2 separate regions of the Homo sapiens genome follow, and region 2 is linked to region 1. A link means that fine-mapping ties the variant in region 1 to the expression of a gene that starts in the linked region. Tissue or cell type: whole blood. Region 1 holds a variant in brackets; the other region holds the start of a gene. All regions are shown on one strand. Distances are between the middles of the regions.

Region 1 (5,201 bases):
CCGCCGGCCCCGCCCTGCCCGCCGGCCCCGCCCTGCCCCACGGGCTTGAACCCCGCCCACCTCTTCGTCCCTCCCCACCAAGCCCCGCCTCTCCCCGTCCCGCCGGCTTCAATCCAGCTCTCTAACCCCGCCCGCCTCTGAGACCCCTCCCCTCCAGCCCCGCCTTTCCCCACCCTGCCGGCTTCAAACCCGCCCTCTAACCCCGCCCACCGCCGCAGCCCCTCCCAGATGGCCCCGCCCCTCCCCGCCCCGCCAGCTCCAACCCTGCTCACCCTGGCCAGCCCTGCACAGGGCCGAGTCCTGTACATCCAGGCCTGCGCGGTGCCTCTGCCTGGGGCTCGGCTCTCAAAGCTGCAAACGTGCAGACTTGACATCCTGAGTGGCGGCATTTTTGGAACACAGGCCATGCGATTTTACTTCTGGACGAATTAGGGAGCGCTCCCAGCCCGTGCAGGGGTTTTTCCCACTCAGGAGTAGGCACTCAGGGATGGGGCTTTCCAGAAACTCTTCCCGCCCCTCCACATACATGTTAACAATTCCATTTCGCATCTATCTATCCATCTAATACATTATAAAATCAAATTCAAAGTCAAAAACAGTATTTCCAGCCCTCCACCGCCCTGTCCCAACCAGGCTTGCAGCACTAAAACTCTTGACAGAAATTTTTGAGCTACCCCTGCTTTCCCTGGACACTACTACGGACGGCTCAGACCAGAACAGACATCTTGAGGGACTTGGGGACGTGTCCACGATGCTGGGGGATTGGACAGTTTCAGGTAGGCTACCCTGGCTTTCCCAAAGTCAAGGTCATGACCTAGATTTCCAAGCAAACGTGCACGGCCTTCTGTGCTGAAATTGTCCGCTGTCTCTCTCAGAAGAGGGAAGGGAGGCATTCTGTAGTACTGCCAAATAGAAGACCGGTGAAGTTCAGCCTCTCTTATTTGCTACTGCATTCTGTACAGAGCAGTCCTGTCCTTTGCTTTGCTGAGATGATCTTGTTCAAATGTGCTGCTAGGCCACCGGAAGTCTCCGCAGTGGTTTTGCAAAGATAATCATCAGAACCCGCTCAGTGAGGAAAATGAGACTTTAAAGAGCCACCTGAATTTTTTGGTGTGGGTCCTTTTTTTGCAGAAGATACTAGGAGCATTTTATGGCTTTTTTCCCCAAGGGAGACTATGTTTTTAAAACGCAATGAGCTAGAAGTATCAAAAGATGAAAACTGCAGAGCGATTTCAAAGCCCGTCAGCTGTTTGGCATTGAGACAACTAAAATTCTGTAAGAAGGGCAAATGGGGTCAAAACACAAAAGGAAATACAATATTGCCTTTAACAACGGCAACTATTTCTGAGGCAAAATGTCACATGTCACCTCTGTGAAACTTTAGGATAGAAGCAAATACAGATGAGTGAGGTTCCTGCAGCTCATCTCTGTGAACATGGATTGTTGGAGAACCCGCAGCCCGCTCGGGTAACCAACAGGAAACTGGCCAGGAGCAAGCCTATCAATCAAATCATCCACTCTAACCTGCCAGAAGGGTTCTCTAAAAGAGTTTTTAAAACTTAAGGCAAAGGAAACTCAGCAGTCATATATTTATCTGAATTTTCAAGAAGTTTTGACTAAGAACTGCTCTAAAAAAGAATAAGAAAACAAATAATCCTGGAAAAATAAAATGAGGGCATCAAAAACCAGTGAAACACTAGAAAACAATGACAAACAGGGAACATCTGTTCCCCAGAATGGAAACAAGTTGGTACAGTACTGGATTGAAGTACATCGGTACAGTACTGGATTGAAGTATTATATAATACAAATGTTTTACAGCATTAATCTTTGGAAGGAAGGAAAAGTTTACAGATGACCCTGGGGCTTCCTAAATCCTACTGTCCCGTATAGAAACACTATGTTTCTAAATATTTTTACTTATTTCCCTGGCTTAATTTCAGAATTTGGAGAATTGGAACCAAGTGGCAACTTCCAGCATCTTAGATCTAAAGTTTATTTGGTGGATGGGAGCACTGTGAAATGGCTGCCAGT[G/A]TATTATTTTTTCAAGTTTCAGTTATTTATTAATCAGTGTAATCTCCAATAGATTACATCAACATGATTTCATTCATTTAGAGGAGAACTATTTCCTGGTGAAGTGGAAAATTGTGCGGACGGATTCTGGAAGACCTTCAGTCTAAAGCAGCTTTATAGTGAAACATTTCATTTAGAAATCTGGACCTTCTTTCTTCAGTTTGCTGTGATCCACATTAATTGAGTAGAACTTGAATTGATCATCGGGACCCAGTTTGTTCCAGGGATCTGGGTGATTCTTTCAGTCCCAACTAACATCTGGATTGAAAAATGCCAGACGCAAGAGATACAGTCCTGCTCCAGTACCTCTAGCTCCAATAAATACTAAGAGGGAGATCAAGTTTGGATGCTTCTTGGCCTGACCGATGATCTGGTGGAGCGTGTCTGCGGCAGAGGCCTCCAATTGGAAAGGAGAGAACCAGCCTAGCCACCAGGCCCTGGGCTAAGTAGTATCTTGCCAGTGTATTTTAAAAGGCCTTTGGGAATTTTCTATTCTGCCTGGCCCACTCCTACTACAGATGTAAGATTATAGTTGTACAATTGGTCTTGTTTCATTTAAATTGTTTTAACTTCTTTTTTAATTTTGGAAAAATACATACAACATAAAACGTACTATCCTAACCATTTTTTTTTTTTTGAGACGGAGCTTCACTCTTGTTGCCCAGGCTGGAGTGCAATGGCACAATCTCAGCTCACTGCAACCTCCGCCTCCTGGGTTCAAGCGATTCTCCTGTCTCAGCCCCCCAAGTAGCTGGGATTACAGGCGCCCGCCACCATGCTGGGCTAATTTTTGTATTTTTAGTAGAGACGGGGTTTTGCCATATTGGCCAGGCTGGTCTTAAACTCCTGACCTCAAGTGATTCGCCCGCCTCAGCCTCCCAAAGTGCTGGGATTACAGGCGTGAGCCACTGCGCCCGGCCTGGAGTGCTTTATTATGCAGTAATAACTAACCAACTTACAGAAAAACAAAGACCAAAAGAAATCCTTAGGCCGGGCGCGGTGGCTCACGCCTGTAATCCCAGCACTTTGGGAGGCCGAGGCGGGCGCATAAGGAGGTCAGGAGATTGAGACCATCCTGGCTAACACGGTGAAACCCTGTCTCTACTAAAAACACAAAAAATTAGCCGGGTGTGGTGGCGGGTGCCTGTAGTCCCAGCTACTCAGGAGGCTGAGGCAGAATGGCGTGAACTCAGGAGGTGGAGCTTGCAGTGAGCCGAGATGGCGCCACTGCACCCCAGCCTGGGTGACAGAGCAAGACTCTGTCTCAAAAAAAAAAAAAAAAAAGAAAAAAAGAAAAAAAATCTTAAAGACACTCCTTTTTTTACTATCACGATCACTATCTGTATATCTGGGTATGTCTGAAAAAGACTTATGCCAAACCATTAGTTTGCACTTTCCATTCTGGGTTCACAAAAGCAAAGCCCATTACTTTTGCAATACACTAGCTATTCTTGCTAGCTGGTTTGCTTTAGAGTCTGGCTGGATTTTATTTTATTTTTTAAGTGACTCCGTTTCTTTTTAATTTTTGAGGAACCCGGTAACTACCCTGCACCATTTGCAACTGTGCGTTGGAGAAGCTTTTCTCGTGGTCACTGTGAGGGTAATTTGCACCTCCTATTGCTTGGTATTCTGCTAAAAGGTTTTCATACTTGTTCAAACCAGCAGGTTGGTGCCACAGTGAGTATTGCAGATCAGCTGCATTTCAGAACTTCACAGTTGGTGAGTCTGTGTCTTGTCCCTGTAGGACAAGTTGGGGCTTGCGGGTGATGCCAAGGAAAATTCTAGAGGAAGCCGAACAATGCCACAGCAGATGGAAGTATGTGTTCATTTAGGAGGTGGAAGGTGCCTCCATTCTATAAATAGGGTCACCTTGAAACTGCACTGCTTGCCAAACTCCTTAAATGTGTTCAGGTTTTCCCCACGAGTATATCACTGGATAGTTTATTGCCAAACTTCATTAGTTATTTTATTGATAAGGATGATATATTACAGAAGTACACTGTCTCATCAGACATTTTTACTCGAAGTAGAAATACTAAAGGAGGCAAAAGGATCTGTTCTAGCCTGTCCACAATTAGAGCTTCTGGCCCTTTCAGGAAGAAAGGATGGAGGAGAAAGTAACTGATGAAGAAAGTGAGGGCAGTAGGTAAAGAAGAGGAAAGAGATAGAGGAAAATCAGGAAAGGGAGGAGGAAACAAAGAAGGGGAAGAGGTGAGCGCCAGCTGTATACACACCAAGGGCTGCAGCAGCCTCCAGATGCCATGTCTCCCTGCATCCAGGCTCCATCACTCTTTTCAATAGCGCTGCTTGGAAAATTCTTCCATAGCAATCGGAGCATGTTCATCCCCTGACTTAGAAACAATGTGGCTCCCAGTTGCCTTCTGCATCAAGTCAAATCCCCCTAGGTTGGTGTTCAAGTCCCTTCCACACCATAGCCTCACTGTACCTCTGGTCTTAGCTCTGACCTGAGCCTCTCCAGGCCCTCCATATGCCCCGGGCTCCCTTCCTCGTCTCTGGAGGCACCAGGCCCTTGAATGCCCTTTCCTTACTACCTGCCATCACCAAGGACACAGCTCCCATGTTGCCTCCCCTGCCGAGGGTTTATATGTTTGCCATCATCCCAGCACTAGCCCAGCAGCTCCTGAAGAATCATACGTCATGTGCTTCTCTCTGTATCTCCATCACCCAAACAGTGCCTGTAACAAAGAGGACACTTCATAAGAGCTATAGAACGAATGAATGAATCTATGACACCCCTTTTTTCCCTGTTTGCCAGCCCAATATCTTTCTAAAGCTGTTTTTAAATTTAATTTTATTTTTATTATTTGAGATGGGGTCTCACTCTGTTACCCAGGCTGGAGTGCAGTGGCGCGATCTCAGCTCACTGCAATCTCTGGTCCCAGGTTCAAGCAGTTCTCCCACCTTACCCTCCTGAGTATGTGGGACTACAGGCATGTGCCACCACACCTGGCTAATTTTTGTATTTTTTGGTAGAGACAGGGTTTTACCATGTTGACCAGGCTGGTCTCAAACTCCTGACCTCAAGTGATCTGCCTGCCTCGGCCTCCCAAAGTGCTGGGATTACAGGCATGAGCCATGGAGCCCAGCCTTAGCTGTTTTTTTTTTTT
Region 2 (5,114 bases), 200 kb after region 1:
AATAGATTCGATACTATAAATGCTCCAGAGCAACTGAGAGGAAACACTTAATAAAAATAGTCATAGTCTAGAGCTAGTTCAAATTCATGATAAACAAAGCCAACCCTTACCGTGACAACTGACTGTGGCATTGGAAATCACTTTGCCAATTCGAAGCAGCTACGGGAAGAGAGTCTGAAGCCAAGCCTCCAATTTTATCTTGAATATATAAAAAGCAAAGTAATGCCAAGAAATTCTGCAGATGCTAGTTTCATCAGATGACATAAAGACTCATTTAATCAAAAAGGTGTCATTTAGTTCTAGCAATCTAGTTGGACTACTACAGTATATGATTTCCGTCTGTTTGAGGTCTCTAAGCAGTTTTACCAAAGTAATTGCCAAATCCTGTTGGTGCATAATATGTATGTGCAATGCTTGTTCAAAGAATGATTCAAACAACAGATTCTACATAAAAGCAAGATTCTTACAAATTAGCTTTTGGGGAAGGTAAACATTGAACTTTTCTTCTTAAAATGCAAGCCAATGATGATCACTAAAGGTTGCGTTATGGTGTAGGTATTAGCTATGGTTGATGCTTACCTACTCAGCACCATCTGAGCACCAACTGTATGCATAACAACCTACAACCCACTGTGGGAAATGCAAAGTGAAATCAGATGCAGCATTTGTCTTCATCGTGTACATGATCCAGGAAAGCAGAGAACACATGAATTTTAAAACTACGTCATACTACAGCAAGTGAACATTAAGATGCTTTGAAGAACTCAGTGAGTTGGGACTGACCTTCTAATGTCAAAGGAGAAATTGTCCATTCCCTTAAAAATGCTGCTAGCTCAAAATCCAAATGCCAGGTAGTGAGACCTGATTTCTGAAAGAGTTCCTGGGCTCAAGGCTTTAAAAAGCCATCCTTACAGTAGATAACAACAAAGGAAGTAATCCAAGGGGTAAACTATGCCAAGATACTTGATCTCCCACTCCAACCATACCCTAAACTAAGCCACTGCTAGCCATGGCAGAAACCTCTTCTCATGTTGACCATTTCCCTCCCATTTCGCATAATATTCCATTCCTGAGAGGCGGATTTTTAGCAGCAAGAGCTGGGTAAAACGTGGTCTTAGACCTAAACCTGTTATATATATATTGAATATATATATATATATATATTGAAGACATGCCTTCCTTTCTCTAATTCAGAAGTGCATGAATTTAATATTTCCATATATTGGTATTTCAAGTGCAAAAGGAAAAATTCAACTTGCTCTTTAAAATTAACGGCCTCGCTGAAGTGCAAATATCATTCTCTAAAATAGCTGATTCAAAAAAGCAGTAGGGTATTAATAAAAGAAGCTGCAATGCAACACTGATGATCTAATGTCCTAAACATTCGTTTCCTACACGAAGAGACATATAGGTCTTTTTGTATTTTGTAGCTGTCCGCTCTTCCATGATATGCATTACTAAAATTATACACAATTCATAACGGTCATATTCTACCATGGCCATAGAAGCAGCAATGCATTTAAGATATACCAGGAAATGATACTGCAAGTGCCAGAATATGAAAACCTTCAACTCAACATGTAGGCAACAAACTCAACCCAACAGAGTGTTGGCAGAGCCTTTCCTCCCCGTAGCAACATCGTGGTGGAAGCCCGGGCGTCTCTGCTCCCAGGCACCCTGAGCATGTTAGCCGAGGAAAGGGGGTTCCAGCAAGGAGACCCTCGGATGCAGCACTCCTCGTTTCTTTGGCCTGCAGGGCCAACTTTGCAGGACACACACCCTTCTGAGGGGACAGGCCTCGGGCTCGGAATCCCGGGGTTCTGCAGGGCTGCAGGGAGCTCCCTCGCAGAGACCTGAGCCCCCGGCAAGAGTCCAGGCAGCGGTGCCCTGGGTGAATGCAGAGGCTCATCTGCGGGCCTCAGTGGCCCTTTTGAAAACGCCAGCAACAGAGGAGTCCTCGACGCTGTCCCCACAAAAATGTGCCAAGCAAGCCTCAGGGTGGGTGTGGGGGACTCCCCTCAAAAAACGCTGATTTTAAAAACAAAAGACAGGCTCGTGGCCATTCTCAGAGGCGACCACGTTACTCCCAGGGCTGGAAAGCAGATTTGTGGAGGCCAAAGACGAGACAAAAGGCACGAGCTGGCGACAAACTGATCTGGAAAGGATTTTTCTTTTTTTTTTTTTTTTTTTTGGTGAGCGATGAGGGCCTCCCAGTTCAATTCTTTCTTCCCTTACAGAGAAGACTCATGGGCCGCTGAGCAAATCCCTTATGGTCTGGAAGAGACGTCAGATAGGCAGGGGGAGAGAACCCCCCAAACTTTCCCAAACTGCGGCAGGCTAGTGGCTAGTGGCGGCAGCGGACCTCGGGGCCCCGGGACACAGGGGGCACCCCGGGGCGTCAGCCACCCCCTCCCGCCACAACAAAAGGCCCCAGCGCAGCCCAGGAGCTGGGACTTCCCAGACCCGAGCCCGGCGTGGGGAGCCGGGAGCGCGATCGGGCGGCGCGCCCTGGGCGGCCCCTCTGTCCGCGGCGACATGGGAGACAGAGCCGCGTGTCCGAGGCGCGGCATAAAGGGGACCCCCGGGCGCATCCAGACGAGCCCCCGCCGCAGCGGCGACAGCAGCTGGAGCTGCCCGCGCCCCCGCCCGACCCAGCCCCCGATCCCCGGCCCCCGAAGCCTCCGCCCGGGTCACCCCGCGTCGCCGGCCCGCGCCGCCCCCTCGGGAGCGCGTTGCGGGTGCTGCAGGCCCGGAGGCTCCCGATGCGGCTCGGGCTGCGTCGCCACCACGCGGCCCGGGACCCTCCCGCCGCCGCCGCCGCCGCCGCCGCCTCCGCGCCAGGCCCGGCGCGACACAAAGCCCCCGGCCCCGCCGCCGCCCACTGACCTTGGGCTCCGGCGCCGGGCTCCCGCAGCGTCTTGGTCACCGCCTTCCAGACGTGGCAGCCCAGCAGGCACAGCAGCAGCGTCGCGGACCTGCTCATCTCCGCCGCGGGGCCGGCGGCGGCTCGGGCTCGCCGAGAGCGGGCCGGGCGGCGGCGCGTCACGGGCGGCCGGGCGCCGCGCCCCCCTCCATGTCGCTGGCTCCGCGCGCCGGGCCCGCCGCCCGATTGGCCCGGCCCCGCCGCCCCGGCCGCTCCCTCCCGCGCCCCGCGCCGGGTTTCCCCGAAGAGCCGCGGCGGCGGCGGCGGCGGCGGCTGCTGCTGCTCCGCCAGCTCCTTAACCCCTTCCTGCCTCGCCCGCCGCCGCCGCCGCTGCCCGCGCCCAGGCCCCGGGCCCGTGGTGCCACCTGGCGGCTGCGGCGCCGAGGGCGCCCCCGCCCGGCGCCGCTGCGTCGCGCCCCCAGCCCGACCCCCGGCGACACTGCCCCGGCGCGCCCCATCCCCGCAGCCCCGCAGAAGAGCCAGACCTGCCTTTCAGGGCGGAGCCCTTTTCATCACACCAGGTCACCCAAGGGGCCGCAGGAGACATTGTATCTGGGTGTGACCCCCCCACCAGGTGCCATCCTAATGTAGTTGTGTCCCCCAACGTAGATTTCACACCCAGTGTTAAAGATCCGCAAAAACACTCCCCAAGCCAGTATAGACTGCAGTAGGCCTGCAGTACCTACGTGTTGGCGGGTGGACAGCTTCAGGAGGAATGGTACTTGGATGGTTCTAGGGGTTAGGGTGGGGAGGAAATCCACATCTTTTGAGGCCCTAGGTGCTTTAAAACTTTCTGTCCTATTAAAGAAAAAAGACTATTCCATGACACGTGTGAAAGCACAGCAAAGAAGACCCTCTTTGGAACCATCGCAATAGGTATAAGCCCTACCATGGGATTCTGCAGTCGGGGAGAAAGGTTGGGTTCAACTCTGAATACAGCAGGAACAAGTGGGGATTTATAACCGAGGACCAGGGTGGGATGCAGGGAATGAAAAATTATAAGAGGAAACATCAGGGGGAAGGGGGATTCTTGAAAGTCAGACATCCCCTGGCAGGGCTGGGCAGGACAGGGCGGATGGGGAAGCTGATCAGATATCCAGGGTGGAGGGTTCTTGGTAAACTGACTTAGCAGGGTTCTTCCTGAAAGCAGATTTTACAAGGAAGGGCACAACTGAGCCTAGAAGAAGGTTCCGGAGCCTGACTGTAGTTCGGTCAAGCAGAGACTCTTTGTCCATCTTCACAATACATGATCTAAGAGGTAGTTAGCATTATCCCCCCCATTCACAGATGAGAAAAGAGGCTAAAGAGGGTTAAGGAATTTGTCCAAAAGTGCATACCTGGTCAGTGGCAGAGCCAAAATTCTAATAAAACAGTCAGTCTGACCCCAAAATTGAAACTCTTCACAAAAACCTCCAGACTTGGCTGGGTGTGATGGTTCATGCCTATAATCCCAACACTTTGGGAGGCTGAGGTAGGTGGATGGCCTGAGTTCAGGAGTTAAGAGACCAGCTGGGCCAACATGGTGAAACCCTGTCTCTACCAAAAATACAAAAAAATTAACCAGGCATAGTGGCCCATGCCTGTGGTCCCAACTACTCAGGAGGCTGAGGTGGGAGGATCGCTTGAACCTGGGAGTGGGGAGGTTGCAGTGAGCCAAGATCGTGCCACTGCACTCCAGCCTGGATGACAGACTGAGACCCCGTCTCAAAAAAAAAAAAAAAAAAAAATCAAAAAATAAAACCACCAAAAAAACCACACACAAAACAAAACCAAACCTCTAGACTTTCCTTGAGCCTAGGGACCCCCTCCATTCCAACCTCAACTTTTCTTTCTCTCAACCCACTCCTGTCGGTATGCCTTCCACACAACCTTCACCTCCACTTGTCCCTCTCCACCTTCTCTTCCAACTAGCACTGCGGTGACCTTCCGACTTCCACTGGGGACCTAGGAAAATCCACTCCAGACCCATCATCCACCCCACACTGCTTCCAGAACACCAGGCCAGAAGGAGGGTTATTACTGTAATTTCATTAATTGAGCATTTAGACATGGCAGGCACCGTACCAAAAAAAGAATGAAGGATGGCACTTGCCCAGTTGGCTTATAAAAGACAAATGACTGTGAGACATGAGAAAAACTAGGACGTACAGAAGCCCATATGGGTTTTATAGTCACCCTTAGGACCAATGCT

Evidence for each region. PIP is the estimated chance that this variant, and not a neighbour inherited with it, causes the effect.
Region 2: FAM171A1 starts here. The variant in region 1 is fine-mapped to the expression of FAM171A1 in whole blood (TOPMed, PIP above 0.99).

Annotation. Positions count from the first base shown.
Region 1 is chr10:15,168,827-15,174,027 of GRCh38, forward strand. LOC105376434 (a long non-coding RNA gene) reads right to left here. Exons shown (of 4, transcript XR_930699.2): 4 at 4,018-4,769. It also overlaps the pseudogene LOC124902566. Among named protein-coding and RNA genes, the nearest start is that of NMT2, 2.7 kb to the left of the region's middle. RefSeq lists a silencer at 1-66. The variant G/A (reference allele first, on the strand shown) is at 2,035.
Region 2 is chr10:15,368,070-15,373,183 of GRCh38, forward strand. FAM171A1 (family with sequence similarity 171 member A1) reads right to left here and starts at 3,220. Exons shown (of 8, transcript NM_001010924.2): 1 at 2,887-3,220. The coding sequence starts at 2,983. RefSeq lists silencers at 2,977-3,206, 3,217-3,266.